4 linked regions of the Homo sapiens genome follow. The protein of the gene in region 1 purifies or fractionates together with the protein of each later gene. This does not show direct contact. Each region holds a gene or a part of one and is shown in the gene's direction. Other genes may lie near its edges.

What was found. The genes of interacting proteins can lie anywhere in the genome.
Region 2: the proteins of DLK1 (region 1) and UBE3B purify together in Homo sapiens (affinity purification with mass spectrometry; 4 studies listed by BioGRID and IntAct, with this or other methods). This does not show direct contact.
Region 3: the proteins of DLK1 (region 1) and TMEM94 purify together in Homo sapiens (affinity purification with mass spectrometry; 4 studies listed by BioGRID and IntAct, with this or other methods). This does not show direct contact.
Region 4: the proteins of DLK1 (region 1) and ANKRD13C purify together in Homo sapiens (affinity purification with mass spectrometry; 4 studies listed by BioGRID and IntAct, with this or other methods). This does not show direct contact.

Annotation. Positions count from the first base shown.
Region 1 is NC_000014.9:100,725,575-100,729,691, forward strand, and holds the start of DLK1 (protein delta homolog 1 isoform 1 preproprotein), read left to right. Parts: upstream 1-1,317; 5' UTR 1,318-1,494; coding exon 1,495-1,561; intron 1,562-2,821; coding exon 2,822-2,885; intron 2,886-3,361; coding exon 3,362-3,492; intron 3,493-4,117. UniProt on the Homo sapiens protein: May have a role in neuroendocrine differentiation.
Region 2 is NC_000012.12:109,533,134-109,536,633, forward strand, and holds part of UBE3B (ubiquitin-protein ligase E3B), read left to right. Parts: intron 1-332; coding exon 333-425; intron 426-523; coding exon of another isoform or gene 524-703; exon of another isoform or gene 704-811; coding exon of another isoform or gene 812-931; exon of another isoform or gene 932-1,457; coding exon 1,458-1,649; 3' UTR 1,650-3,500. UniProt on the Homo sapiens protein: E3 ubiquitin-protein ligase which accepts ubiquitin from an E2 ubiquitin-conjugating enzyme in the form of a thioester and then directly transfers the ubiquitin to targeted substrates.
Region 3 is NC_000017.11:75,455,361-75,459,434, forward strand, and holds the start of TMEM94 (transmembrane protein 94), read left to right. Parts: upstream 1-1,274; 5' UTR 1,275-1,391; intron 1,392-1,933; exon of another isoform or gene 1,934-2,117; intron 2,118-4,074. UniProt on the Homo sapiens protein: Could function in the uptake of Mg(2+) from the cytosol into the endoplasmic reticulum and regulate intracellular Mg(2+) homeostasis.
Region 4 is NC_000001.11:70,274,723-70,278,222, reverse strand, and holds part of ANKRD13C (ankyrin repeat domain-containing protein 13C), read left to right. Parts: intron 1-1,378; coding exon 1,379-1,458; intron 1,459-3,404; coding exon 3,405-3,500. UniProt on the Homo sapiens protein: Acts as a molecular chaperone for G protein-coupled receptors, regulating their biogenesis and exit from the ER.

The DNA of each region.
Region 1 (4,117 bases):
AGGAGGTGAAATATCTTTAATCCCCTCCTACCCCTCTCCCTCCCTATCTTTCTGAGCCTCCCCCATCCAGACTGGGTGCAGGGGTGCAGAGCTTTCCTCTCCAGCAGGGCTCTAAGCCTAAGCCGGGGGCAATGGGGAGGAGGGGTGTCTGAGGAGCACTCCCTCTCCCTGGGAGCTCTGCAGAGGAAGAGGGTCTCTGGCAATCAGCATCCTCTACCTCCACCTCTCCAGCGGGCGACCCCTCAGAGAAGGTCTCCCAGTGAGTCTGGAATACGTGCCGAGTGCCTGGAGTGCTATTGTGTGTATGTGAGAGCACATTGGTGAGGCTGCCCATGCATGCCACTGTGGACAAAGACAGATGCGATCGTGTGTGTGTGGGGACTGCGTATATGTTTTTGTCAGTGTGTGTGACCACGAGTCAGCTGGGTATGTGTGCTTGTGGGTATCAGGTGCATGGCTGTGCGTACATGTGTGCGTAAGAGTCGGTGCATTTGTGTTTCAGCGCGGCTAAGGCCCTGACTGAGATGCTGTGTGTGCGGGGGTGGGTGTGACTGAATGCGGGCACGGGTGTCCGTCTGTTTATACGTGTGTTTGCGTGTTTGGGTGTGCAGGTGGCTCTGCGTAAGCGTCTGTGTGCAGGGGGTCGGCACATGGGGGAGGATGCCCATGGTTGGGTAACCGCAGGTCCGCTTGACCCTCTGCCACCTAGGACTGTGTCTATACGGCGTCTGGGCTACAGTGTGTTTGAGTTGCCGTGTGCGTTTCCGTTGCGGGGTGTGGGTTGCCACGGGGCAACTGCATTTTTCTGCGTCTTCATGGCCAGGGGTACAGGGGGCGTCGGGCTTTTCCTGGGGGTTTTTCTGTGTGCGTGTGTAATTATGTGCTTAGTTCACATCTTCATAGTGCGCCTTTGTGTTTTCCTGGGTATCTAACCATTGCACGTGTGCCCGGGACTTCAGCGATAAGTGTTTCGGTGTTCCTGCGTGCGGATTTGTGCTCTCCGGGGAGGTCTGCGGCCCAGGTTCGATTCCTGCGACTTGTCCTAGGCAGGCCTGTATGTGCGCGGCGGCCGCGTGCTGTACAGTGTGAGGGAACGTGTACCAAACGCTCGCGGGATACCTGTGCCCGTCTAGCCAAGAGTGCACCCGTGTGCGCGAGCGGGCTTCTGGGACGCCGCCGTGGTCGGGGGCGGCCCTGCGAGGGGAGGGGGTCACAGGGACTGGCCGGCGCCGGCCCCGTGCGCACGGAGGCGGGGGCGGGGGGCGGGGGCCGCGAGGGGGGAGGCGGTACGAAAAGGGCGGCGCGCGCGGCGGCGGCGGCAGCTCCCCGGCAGCGGCGGTGGAGAGCGCAGCGCGCAGCCCGGTGCAGCCCTGGCTTTCCCCTCGCTGCGCGCCCGCGCCCCCTTTCGCGTCCGCAACCAGAAGCCCAGTGCGGCGCCAGGAGCCGGACCCGCGCCCGCACCGCTCCCGGGACCGCGACCCCGGCCGCCCAGAGATGACCGCGACCGAAGCCCTCCTGCGCGTCCTCTTGCTCCTGCTGGCTTTCGGCCACAGCACCTATGGTGAGTTCCCCGGCGGCCCGGCTCGCGCCCCCTCTGGGGAAGCCTGCGACTCCCCGCCGGCCGCCCGGTGCCCCGCACGCCCCGTCTCGTGAGCCCCAACTCCGCCCGTCCCGCCTAGCCCTAAGCCCCGCGCTGTGCCTGTCTCGCCCTACCCACCACGCTCGCATGCCAAGGCCCGTCCCAGGGGTCCCAGGGCGCAGGGGATGTGTGAGACCCCCAGCCCCTTCCCGCCCTGCAGAAGTGGCGCCAGAGGGGTGTCGGTGCGCTGAGCAAGGAGGTATGGAAAAATGGGGTGCTGTTGTGGAGTCTTCTATGAAAATACTCTGGGGTGCAACTTTGGGGTGTCCCTGTGTGAGCGTTCTGGAACAGGTCTCGGGGCGGGAGTGGGGGACGACTTTGCCGTCTTAGCCCCCAATTCCCAGAGAAGCCCAGCCTGAGCCCTTCCTGCGTGGCGCGTTTCTGTAGGTGAGGGGCTGCGACACTTCTGTCTGCAGCGGCCATCTGTCTCTGACAGCGAGAGAGTTGCCCCCTTCCTGCAGCGCCCCCCCACTCATTGCACCAGTGGTTGTAAGGGGGCTGTCTAGAAAGCTGGGGAGCTGGTTGAGTAAATGCACACAGTAGGTGCCTGTTAAAGTGTCAGAATCTCTAAGCAGTGTTGTTGCAACCTCAGCCCGCTAAGCAAAACCCTGTGTCGTCATCGTTTTTTTAATGCGAAGAGTCTGGGGTAGGGGAAAGAGGGAAGATTTGACCTGGGTGCCCGGCTTAATAGGGATGAACCTTAAAAAGAATGCAGACGCCTTACTGGGGCGCCCACCAGGTGAACCTGTCTGGGCTTTCCCGGAGTTGAACACCTCAAAATCTGCTCCTCTTTTCAGCTCAGGTTGCAAAAGTGACGGTCAGGCTGCATGCCCAGGGCTCAACATATTTCCCTCCACGGTCCCCGTCCCCGCTGTTAGGAGGACTTGAGGTGTCGTATTTGCTTTTGGGAGTCCGAGGAGAAGGTGTTTCTCCTGCTCCTAAGAACGAGGGAGAGTGTACTGTGGTCATTTCATTGCTGGGAACGTGGCAGAGATGTTTTTCCTGAGTGCACTGAGCCCCATCCATGCTCGGATAGGAAGTGCCTACTGTGTGCCAGGCTGGTAGGACCCAAGAGGGCTGTTGGTGCCCTCGAGGGCAGTGGTGGGCTGTGTGGGCGAAGACAGCCTTTGCCTTGGCCTGGGGCCTGGTGGGGTGAATTGTATAACCTTTCTTGTACCTCAGGGGCTGAATGCTTCCCGGCCTGCAACCCCCAAAATGGATTCTGCGAGGATGACAATGTTTGCAGGTAATAGAGTGGCTCCTCAGAGGCAGCTTGTAGGGGCCACGCAGAAGCCTGGGGAGTCGTGAAGTCAGGCAGAAAAAAATAGGGGGCTTGGCCACTACGCTGCAGCAAACAGCTTCCGGGCCCCTGCAGAAAACTGGTGGGGCGAGCTGGGGAGATGGGGGGGGCGGGGGGGGGGCAGCCACAGCTCCTGTCTGCGTTCTCAGAGGTGGGGGGGCAGGTGGGACCACTGCAGGCCACTGCGGCAAAACGCAGCACTCCCCCGGGATCTCGGGGCCCCTCCAAGTCGGCCCCCTCAGCTTGGCATGTTTTCTCTTTAAGTTTTCCCATTCAGGTGGCTGGTGTTTACTTCCCAGGACCACCGGCTGCCACTGTGCAAAGACCCCCAAGGGTCCTTGGTTCCACAGAAAGTAGCCTGAGCTGCCTCTCTACCCCTGCCCTCTTCATATGTCCCCACCTTTCTCCCCCACCCATTGCAGGTGCCAGCCTGGCTGGCAGGGTCCCCTTTGTGACCAGTGCGTGACCTCTCCCGGCTGCCTTCACGGACTCTGTGGAGAACCCGGGCAGTGCATTTGCACCGACGGCTGGGACGGGGAGCTCTGTGATAGAGGTTGGCACTCGCCTTTGTTCACCTCAGCTCTGCGTCCTTACCTGCCTGCCCTAGCCCCTACCACCTCCTCCCAGTCTCCTGTTGCTGGTGTTCCTCACTTCCTCATTCCTGCACACTCCGTGCCCTGTATTCTAAAGATCTGTTTATAAATTTCCTGTGGGTACCGAATGCCTCCTCAGAGGTAGGGACTTTATTTTGCTCTTCTCTGCGCCATCAGCACCCAGCACCTAGAGGGAACATGGCGTGGGGGCCAGGGAGCTGCCTGTTGAATAAAGAGTCACAAAATACACATACAGCTGGGCCGGTGGGACCACAGACCCCAGGCTGCCTGTCCAGGTCATGGAAGCCCAGTGATGGACAGGGCTCTGGGGATCTCAGAGCTAAGACTCCCTAGAAAAGCACACGCAAGACTGTAAAGAGGCTGCAAACAAACAAACGGGGTGGGGGGTGGCCAGCACTGCTCAGTGGTTGAGGGGCAGGTGCTGAGTCAGGGCCAGGAGGACAGGGCTGGGGGGCCTGGACTGAGTGGGTCAGGTGTAGGGGGAGGCTGCAGTTGGGAAAAGCTGAGAAAGGGTTAAAGTGAAGATGGGTGTTATCTGTTGATTTCATTAATTTATGCAATCTT
Region 2 (3,500 bases), on another chromosome or scaffold:
GAGACCTGCCTCTCGGGGACGCCTCACCAGTGCCCTGGCTGGGCATTTGTGCTGTTCCTACTCTGCAGTCACACGTGCTCTCACAAGTGGCCAGTCGCACCTATTGGGTATGGGTTTCATGTGTCTTAGTCCCCGAGAGCAGCACCCTTGAGAGAGATGTACGGCGTGTGCCAGTTTTGGGGCCAGATCCACCCCGCCACTCCATACGGCTGGCTAGACAGCAGTTACAACACGGTAACAGACAGAGCAAACACGTGCTACACAGCTGCAAGGGCCCGTCCTGGAAGAGCAGGAGCCTGCCCCGTCCCCACTGACCCTGCTTTGTGTTGCAGTTCGTGACCAGCTGCTCCAGACCCCCGCTCCTGGGATTCGCCTACCTCAAGCCTCCATTCTCCATCCGCTGCGTGGAGGTGTCGGACGATCAGGTACCCCCACGGGGTGGGTGGGGAAGAGCCTTGACTTCCCTCTTGGTGGTTGTCTGCTGTGCCCACTGTGCAAGGCCCTTATCTAGTCCATATCTCAGCAAGGCAGGCAGCTGGACCCCTCAGAGCCAAGTGAGGAGGGCCCCACAGTTCTCACGGCAGGAGAACCAGCCAGCCCCAGAGAGACTGCCCACGGACTCAGCCCTCTCTCGGCAGCCCCTTTCTCTTTCCTTCCTCAGGGAAGGGTACCTGGAGTGGGGGTGGGTACGTGCTGTTTTTAGTGGCGTCTGGCCTCACCAGGGCTCCAGATCTGAGGCAGCATGGGAGAAAGTGAGAGAGTGGGCTCAGGAGGCAGGCAGGCGCAGACTCGAATGCTACTCCTACCCCAGCAGGCTGTGCACGTCCAGGCTCGCTGCTTCATTTCCTCATTGGCCAAAGGAGAAGGAAAGCCTTCAGGGTTACGGAGCTCTGTGTGTCTCAAGCCTGGCCCACTGTGGGTGCTCAAATGAGAGTCCTACTCCCCATAAAAACCCAGTGGCCGCCTCTGGGTGTAGCTGCCTCTCATGATGCAGTTTGAGCCCGTGATGCCACCTTGTACAGGAAGCTACACAGTCCTCGGCCTCCATGCTTAAGGGAAAGTTGGCCCAAGTCATGGTCTGCCACCGGCCACAGCACCGGTGAGGAGGGAGGAGTGCATTCAGAAATGTTTGGGCACCTAACAGTTTTTACAGCATTCTACTTTTTGTCAATTGGTTAACCAGTAATTCGCTGTGAACCGGAAGGCCCCATTTCCAAAAGCTTACTTAGTGCAGGAATTCTCTGTGCAGGCCCCAGGGAGAAGGGGTTCCTTCTCTGGAAGCCAGTCGTCTTGTGTCTGGGGCTTGACCTCGGGTAGTGGTGCCAGGGCAGCGCCCTGCACTCTGCCCAGCATCCAGGGACTGGCCAGATCCCCTCCCTGGGCTCCCTGGCCTTGGCATCAGCCTGGGCTCCCAAACTAGGCCCTTCCCAATTCAAGGCCACGATGTGTGCCTTCAGGACACCGGGGACACTCTGGGCAGCGTCCTCCGGGGCTTCTTCACCATCCGCAAGCGGGAGCCAGGCGGCCGCCTGCCCACCTCCTCCACCTGCTTCAACCTGCTCAAGCTGCCCAACTACAGCAAGAAGAGCGTCCTCCGCGAGAAGCTGCGCTACGCCATCAGCATGAACACGGGCTTTGAACTCTCCTAGCTCCTGTCCCAGCCCTGCCTCCAGGGCTCCTGGGCTGCCAGGGACCTTCAGCTCCCAGAGGCAGTGTGGTCCTGGGAATGTGACCAACATGCCAGGTGACATTGGCCCCTAGACCCTCTCTATAGCCATGAGACTCCTTGTGGCCTCAAGAAATTTAGACGCCCACGACAGCACTACACAGCATCTCCAGGTGATGCCCAAGGCACAGGGCTGCAGAAAATAAACCTCCAGATTCCACCAACACGGGTCCATTCTTCCTGGTGATGGCAGAGGGGCTTCTTTTAGCTAGTTTGATCTTTTGGGAGTCTGTCTTTCCTTAGCCGTCTGAGTGAGCTGTGTATGAACAAGTCCCAGGAGTTCCAAGAGTCTAGAGTGGTTTTTGCAGCATGGGTTGAGTGTACAAAGCCTACTGTGCGTGAGATCCTCTCCTTCCGTTTCTGAAATCTCTTACTCAGGTAAGGCCTCGCCAAGCCTCTATGCACCCCACAAAGTTTCTGCCTCCATGCCGTCCACAGCGCCTCTTCCCAGACAGCCAGGCCCATCTGCTGCCCAGGGAAGCGCAGGCGCCTGCTAGGGACGCTATGGACACCGTGAGTCCAAGGCGCTGCTCCTGCCTTGAAGCCACGCGCTCCACGCCGCGGCCCTCCCATTTTCTGCGTCCTCAGCGGGCTGAGCTGCCAGAGAGTCTTCCCGGACCTATTCCCGTCCTATGCATTCACATTGGCATCCTGGTTTGGGGGAAGAAAAACAACGGCCCTTAGCAGCAGCCCCGTTTCCAGAATGTGCTGCCTGTTCCCCAAAGCCTGCTTGTCCCGCGGAGGACGGCTGCCTTTGACCCTGCTTATTTGTCTCACTGGTTATCTAATGAGGAACAAACACTAACCTAAGGTACACATCCCATCTGGGCGGTGGCTTCACTCCTGAGTCTGCAAAATCCCAGGAAACTTGGGTCTTGCTGCCCATCCTTCCTCAGCACAGGGAACCCGGAAGCCCGTTGCACTGACAGAGGCTCACACCCTCTGGGTTTTTTGTTTTTTTTTTAAACTTCATTTCTCTTCCAACCCATTGTGTTCCTCTGCCCTCATTCTTTACCTTTGTTGTAAGAACTTTAGCTCCAGGGAACTGAGGCAGAGGCCCTGTTTGTGGTCTGTGTTGACAGCCACCCACCCTCTCCCACCTCATGCTCCTGCACCTGCACCACCAAGGTTGATGCCGGATTCGAAGCCAGGAAGGCCCAGTCCCTCCTCTGCTCTCCTCAAAGACGCAAAACATTTTCCAACAAGAGCTGTCACAGTGGCAGCAAAGCAGGGGCCACCCGTCTCCACAGTCCTTCAGAGTTTCAGCTGCATCCTGGTGTCCCACCCAGGTCGAGCCCCCAGGCTTCTGGAAAAGAGTGTGTGCTCTACTTTGATGGAAACATGGCAAGGAATTTAAAGACAGGAATGTATTAATATTATTGAAGGTGTGTTCGTAACCTCTGATTCTGTGGACTTGCCACTTTCTCCAAACGCTCGGTTCCTTTGAAGATTTCTTCTGAACGTGTGTGCGCACGCTGGGCGGGTTCGTGCATACATGCGGGGACCCCAGACTGTCAGCACAGGGAAGATGGATCCCATCCTAATTTTTATCACCTGAAGGTTGGAACCAGTGAGGGACTGGGAGAGAGTGATTTATAAGCACCAATATCAACTTCATGTGGATTTTTGACAAGGAGGGGTAGTTTGTAATTTCATTTAAATTCTTTTCAGCAGCTGGAAATATTGCACTATCTGAAACACTGAATCTCCTTTTGTAACTGGTGTTCACTGACACCTTGATGGCTCTTGATGGCTCTAAAAAGTTGTAGGATTT
Region 3 (4,074 bases), on another chromosome or scaffold:
CCAGCTACTCCGGAGGCCGTGGCAAGAGAATCACTTGAACCCGGGAGGTGAAGGTTGCAGTGAGCCGAGATCAAGCCATTGCCCTCCAGCCTAGGCGACAAGAGCGAAACTCCGTCTCAAAAAAAAAAAGAAAAAAAGAACCTTTAAAGCAAAGCGTAGGGAACCAACCATGTGACGAAGGAGCAGAGGTGGAAAGGTCTCTGTCACGTTTAAAGAATGGTGGTTAATCTATGTGGCTGCAGGAATAGTTTAGCCTGTGGGGACTTAGACCTGGAAACGTATGTCTGAGTCAATTTATGAAGGACTTTGAACATCAGGCAGAAAGATTTGGACCTATTTGCAAAGGTGAACTATCAGTTTTTGTGTGCAGGTTAGTGACATGATTCTTATGGCGTTTTAGGCAACAGCTAAACTGGGTCATACAAGATTAGGTACTAAAATGCCATCTTCTTGTCCAGCTGAGAAAGGGATTTTAATTACGTAATTAAACTCATGAATGTGGGAAGGGGCTCTTACTTCACAAGGCCAACCTCAGCTCTTTCCCAATTATATAAACAAGTTTTTGTTTGTTTTTTTGTTTTTGTTTTTTTTAAACAAGCCTTCCAGACTTAGATCTCTGGGAAAAGAGAAGTAAATACTGACACAGGCTTGCTTTGTTTTCCCAAGAGAGGTCTCCCAGGCGATTTATCTAATTACCTAGAAAAAAAATTTAACTTGTTTTTCCCTTTAGATTTCAGCCGAGCTGGAAGCGGGAGGGGGGAATTGCAGTATTGCCTTAGATTTTCTAGATTTGGTTTGGACGCAATATTCGTCCTGAGGGAGTCCCTCCAAGGCCTCTCGGAGCGGGCAGCCTCTAGGCATTTGTTCAAGGCAACAAGGAGGGAGCTTAGAAGAACTTAAGAGAGGCGGGGAGCTCTGCAAAGGGCTTATTTTAAAAAGAAAGGGAAAAAAGGTGGGGCGCGCCGTCTATCTTTTTAGAATAATTCTGTAGGAAAACGAATCGGAGGTAAAGCCATGCCCTCTGGTCAGGGTTTCTGGACTAGAAACTGCCTGAGCTTTACGCACAGGAAAGGACAGTGGCTCTTCACTCTCCCGGCCGCATCACTCGGCACCTAATTCCGCCAGGCTCCCAGAGGGGCGGTTGCAGCTACAGCCTAGCACGCCGCGTAGCCAATAAGAAGCCAGAATTCCCCCTATTCTCAAATCCTGACCAATCGGTGGCCTGAACTTTAGCTCTCTGGCCGGCGCCTCTGTTGCCCGGAAGGGAGGCAAGCCCCCTTAGAGTTGCCAGTAACGGACATGGCTGCGGCCCCCGGAGGAGGGGACGTGAAGTGAGGAGGGGGTTGGGAGGGGAGAGGACGCGGGCGAGGAAGACCAGCCCCGGGGCCCCGGTAAGTACGAGAAGGCCCGTGGCCCGAAAGTGGGGAGCAAGGGGGCGTGGGGCTCGGCCTTGCGCGTCCTTTGGATTCTTGGCCAAGGAAAGGGGAGTCTGGGGTCTGCACCCAGAGAACGGCTTAAGGGGATGCCTCCTGAGGGGGAGTCCAGGGACTGGCTCTAGTCTCCAGCTCTTGACCATTGCCTTCCCCCGAGTCTTCAGACTCTTGCTCTCAGCCCTGGATTGGTCCATTGTGGGGTCTCTCGCCAGAAATAAAGCCTCTCGCCAACAAAGAATCCCTGCCCCAGGTCTGTCGTGCCTAGGCCCTGGCCCAGAGGGCTCCCAACGCCGACGCCCTGAGTATTTATTTCGAGGCCCCTGGGAGTCCTCATCCCCGACCTAAATAAAGACCGTTGTCCCGCCTGCGCGCGCTCTCCGCAGCCGCCCGGGGTCCTCGCGCGGCCGTCCCCAGCTGGATGGAGCCGGCCGAGGGGCTCCTGGCAGCCATCCCTGATCTTGCAGTTTGGAGCGGGCTTTTTTTTCTTTCCGCCTTTCCAGAAGCGTTTTCAGGCTCCTCGGAAGCTCACCATCCATGCCATCGGATAAAGTGACTCCTGTGGAATGCCCTCGTTCCTGTACCGCACACCCCTGGAGCCCAGGTCTCCTGGTTCCTAGCATGCCACGATGCGGCCCCTGCCCGCTGCCCAGCGCCAGATGCAAGCAAAGCCCCGCTCTTTCATTGGTGTGTCACCGCGGGCTAAACTTTGGCGTTGCCTTGGTCACGTGCTGCTACATCCCACCCTCTCTCCTGAGTTTTTCGGTGGCTCTTGAGGGAAAAAAGGAGGGAGCTCGTTATGGAATCTGTTTTCCTTCTGCTATGTGGGTGTATGCATTGGAGAGAAGGATCTTTTTCTCATGATTTATCCAAGACGCTCAGCTTTAGTGACATAGTTGTTATTCCGCAGGTAATCTTGGAAGATGGAAGCAGGGAGGGGGCAGTTTTAACATTTTCATTTTGCAGATGTGGAGATTGTTCGGAGAGGCAAGGCCAGGGTCACCTAGAGCCAAACTAGAATCCGAAAGTCCAGGGGCTTGAGTTCTTTATCCGCTAGACCTAGTTGTTTCCTAGGTGTGACCTGAGGAGATCAAGTTCCCTGACTCCCCTGAGCTCTTGCAGGGTGGCTCTGGGCATTAAAAGCGATGGGCATTAAAAGTAGGATCCTCCTATGCTTCCTGGCAATGACTAGGGTCTTCATACCTGGTTTGCATTCAGTAATTTTAAGAAGCCAGCAGGTAGTTCTCTGGCAGACTTCTTGTATTAATATTCATTGTAGTCTCTGTCTGTATTGGGGGCGTAAATTATTTTAGTGATTCTCAGGGCAGCGAGAGGCAGAGTAAGAGGAAGGTATGCCTCTTCCTTGGTTTTTGGGAACCATTACAGTGTCATTAGAGATGTTATTAACAGGAACGCGTTGCATACAGGAACAGCGTGGAGGCAGAAAAAGATTGAGAGCCATTGAAGAGAGAAGAAATGGCACTGTGGTATCTCTTTATAGTACTTTTGGCAAAAGAAGAGCTGATCTTGGTATTCTGAAGAGGTAGTTTAAAAAAAAAGTTAGATCCTGAGGCATAACTAAAAGAATACAAATAAATAAAAAAATTTAAAGCAATGGCACTAGTAAGGTTCAAAAGAGTCAAAGTAATGCCTGTAATCCCAGCACTTTGGGAGGCTGCTGTGGGAGGACTGCTTGAGCCCAGGAGTTTGAGATCAACCTGGGCAACACACTGACAAGAAAACCAAAAAAATTAGCTGGGCATGGTGGCATGTGCCTGTGTTCCCAGCTACTTGGGAGGTGGATGCCAGAGGATCGCTTGAGCCCAGAAGGTCGACGCTGCAGTGAGCTGTGATCATGCCACTGCACTCACTCTAGCCTGGGCAACAGAGCAAGACTCTGTCTCCAAAAAAAAAAAAAAGAGTCATGGAATCAAAAAGTTTGAAAATCACTGTAAAGATCAGAGCACATTAAAATGTAGACTATTGGCCGGGCGCAGTGGCTCACGCCTGTAATCCCAGCACTTTGGGAGGCAGAGGCAGGCGGATCACGAGGTCAGGAGATCAAGACCATCCTGGCTAACACGGTGAAACCCCATCTCTACTAAAAATGCAAAAAATTAGCTGGGTATTGTGGCGGGTGCCTGTAGTCCCAGCTACTTGGGAGGCTGAGGCAGGAGAATGGCGTGAACCCGGGAGGCAGAGCTTGCAGTGAGCCGAGATCGCGCCACTGCACTCCAGCCTGGGCGACACAGCGAGACTCCGTCTCAAAAAAAAAAAAACAAAAAAAACAAAAACAAATAAAATGTAGACTATGGTGGTTAACCCTAGAACAGGAGACAGCATGTTCAGATAAAATCCTCAAACATTGCAAGTCTTAGCTGCTATGTTAGCTCTAACTTCCTTGCTCACTGGTTCTCTTTGTCAAAACTGCAAACAGGGAAACTGGTGGATACTGTGGAGTAGTGCAATGACCAGGGAGGTGAAGTACAAACCATCTTCTTCATCATCAGCCCCCAAATAATTGAGAGTTAACTGCCCTTGAACCACCAGACCACCATGCCCCTTGTTTGTGGTGACTTGACATCAGATGAGACTGGGAGAGCCAGGCCTTGACAGTGAAATGGAAGAGAAACCCCATGGCATT
Region 4 (3,500 bases), on another chromosome or scaffold:
CCACGCCTGGCCAGTTCTTTTTTTTTTTTTCTGTGAGGCAGGGTCTTACTTTGTTACCCAGGCTGGAGTGCAGTGGCATAATCATGGCTTACTGCAGCATCAACTTCCTGGTCTCAAGTGATCCTCCCGCCTCAGCTTTTCAAGCAGCTGAGACCACAGGCACGCACCACCACACTCAGCTAATTTTTTTTTTTTTTTTAAGAAACAGAGCCTCATTATGTTGCCTAGGCTGGTCTCAAACTCATGGGCTCAAGTGATTCTCCTGTCTTTGTCTCCCGAAGTATTGGGATTACAGGCATGAGCCACTGCACCTGGCCCAGGAATTTCCAATTTCCTTTTCTGCTCCAGAGTTTAGTTCCTTATTGCCAGTTCATCTTATAGTGATTGAAATTCATATTTAGCAAAGATAGGGTGAAAGTTTTAAAATCTGACCTTTGCGATTTTTACCATCTACTGTTGATCTCCGTTTTGAACTTCCCATCTGAGTTTAAATCAGTCTTCTTGTGTTTTTTACCTTTAATTTTCTCTGTTTTAAAAACACTCTGTTTCATCTTCATTTAAATCTGAAGTCCAATTGCATAGTCTTGATCTTTACCCACAGAAGATTGCTATCTTTTCTCATATATTTTCTATTTTCTATAATCTCATTTGGCCTTTAATAATATGCTCTTTTATATTTCTGGTTAACTGTTCATGTCTGTATTTTTTTTTTCTTTCCAACTGAATTGTAAATTCCTTGAATCAGAGTTTTGTTTTTTTTTTTTTTGAGGTGGAGTCTGCTTCTGTCACCCAGGCTGGAGTGCAGTGGCACGATCTCGGCTCACTGCAACCTCCACCTCCTAGATTCAAGCAATTCTCTGCCTCAGCCTCCTGAGTAGCTGGGATTACAGGCACTCACCATCACGCCCGGATAATTCTTTTGCATTTTTAGTAAAGACGGGGTTTCACCATCTTGGCTAAGCTGATCTTGAACTCCTGACCTCGTGATCCACCCGCCTTGGCCTCCCAAAGTGCTGGGATTACCGGCATGAGCCACTATGCCTGGCCCAGAGTTAGTTTTTACACTTCTCTGTAGTTCCATGTTCAGCAGCTAGTATAATGACAGGAACATTTTAGATGATTGAAGCATTGACTGAATGGGTGTTATTATTTTGATATTTGTCTTTTTGGGATTTAAAAAAAAATTGATAATAAATATTACCAATAGAGCTTAAACCACCATGGAACGATCTTGGAAGGAACCTTTTCAAGTATTATATTGAAGAGATTAAGTAGATTGTTAGTTTTAATAGTTTACGATGTATTTTAATCTTATATTTAAAAAATAACATCTTTCTTTCTCCCCCACCCCACTTTCTTTCTTTTTTTTTTTTGGCAGCCGATTCGAAGACAGTCTCTTACACCTCCTCCTCAGAACACTATTACATGGGAAGAATATATATCTGCTGAAAATGGAAAGTAAGTTTTTTTCTTGTTTATGTGTTATTTGGTTTTTAGAAAGAATAATTTGTAAAAACTGAATATGTGAATATTTTGGCGTAAATTATTTTGGAGAGAATTATTGGTATATTTTTGACTGAAGCAATTCTTCTACCTTTTAAAAATATGGATTAAATATGATAAGGGCAAAGTGTCCCAAATTATGTACCCTCTTTGCAAATGGTTGTAGATCTTTCTGTATCCATCCTGTCAATTTATACACACCTAAAAAACTAAAAGACACTGTTCTAAGGAAATATGATATAGGAAATTGCGCAGGACAGTTGCTTATTTGAGATTTCCCATTGTATGATGAGCTTTTCTATTTTGTGATTATCCTGATTTTTTAGCATAGTGTGCAAGCCCATTCATTATTTATCTTCTTTTTGCCTTTCCAAGCTCCTCACCTGTCATTATCCTTTAGTTTCAACCTATGCTAGACTACTTCTCACTGTCCTTCCATAGGACCTTTGCTGATGTAATATTACTAACAGTAGAGTGCCTACCACATAGCTCATACTCAGTTTATATTTATTGACTAAAAGAATGATGAATGAATAAAGAAAGGGTTTATTTTTAATAAATAGATAAGTAAAAAGTGTATCCTGGCCAACCATTATTTCCTTTTGGTGGAGAATAAAATATAAAATATTGCTTTCCTGCTCCTGTTTAGGAAGAAGTTGTCATTTTTTTTTCTTATTGAAAGTTTTGTTATATTTTTCTGAATTCTCCAAGATGTTTCCATCTTAATATTTTTATAGTTTTTTTTTTTTTTTTTTTTTGAGATGGAGTCTTGCTCTGTCGCCCAGGCTGGAGTGCAGTGGGCGTGATCTCAGCTCACTGCAACCTCCGCCTCCCAGGTTCAAGCCATTTTCTCACCTCAGCCTCTCGAGTGGCTGGGAATACAGGTGCGCTCCACCATGCCCAGCTAATTTTTGTATTTTTAGTAGAGACAGGGTTTCACCATATTGGCCAGGCTGGTCTCAAACTCATGGGCTCAAATGATCCACCTGCCTCGGCCTCCCAAATGCTGGGATTACAGCTATGAGCCACTGCGCCTGACCTTAATATTTTATGGTGCTAAACAAAATTTATGAGGGTATTATTGTATTAGATTAGCCTCCTGCATGCACTAGGCACCAGCAGACCATACCAAACCAGAATGTAGTTACTTCTGCTAAGTACTACATAATTAAACTGAACTTTGAAATGGGCCAGTTTAAAATGAAAAAAAAAAAAGGACATTCCAGGCAACCTGAGTCAACATAGTAACTAAGTCTTCTGTTTTTTTAACTGTATAAGGAAAGCAACTTTGAAATAACCAGATCACCTTTTTTCCCCACCGTTTCCACTTCAGCCTTTTCAGTCTATAAAGATAACCTCCTCTTTTCAGCTTATTGGAACGCTCATTCTATTTTACAGAATTAGGTATTGTCCTGTGCTAGAGTTGCAAATAAAAGCCAATTAGATCTTTATGCTACATTGATAATTTTCTTTTGATAATAGTTAATATAGAATTCCTTATTCTTCACAATATTTCTTATTGATCAATGCAGAGGCTGTAATAGACAGTAAAGAAGATTGAATTGAATAAGTGACTTTAAAGATATACAATAATACCTTAAAAATTTTTTTACTAATGATTTTCTTTATTCCTAAAAATAGTGGTTATTAAAATTATATTCAATGTGAAATTAGTTTAGATCTAATAATTTCTGAACTTTTACTCTTTGCTATTCTTTTTTATTGCCCTTGTCTTAATTTCTTATACATATCTTATTCCCTTTTAGCATAACTTTATTTCTGTAGACAGAGTAAGAAAAATTGAAATATTAATGAATGTCATTGAAAGATGACAGATGCTTCTTAGGAAGGTGATAGACTATGGAAAAAGTTTCCTAACATTTTTTTTCCTCCCATTTTAGAGCTCCTCATCTGGGTAGAGAATTGGTGTGCAAAGAGAGTAAGAAAACGTTTAAAGCTACGATAGCCATGAGCCAGGAATTTCCCTTAGGGATAGA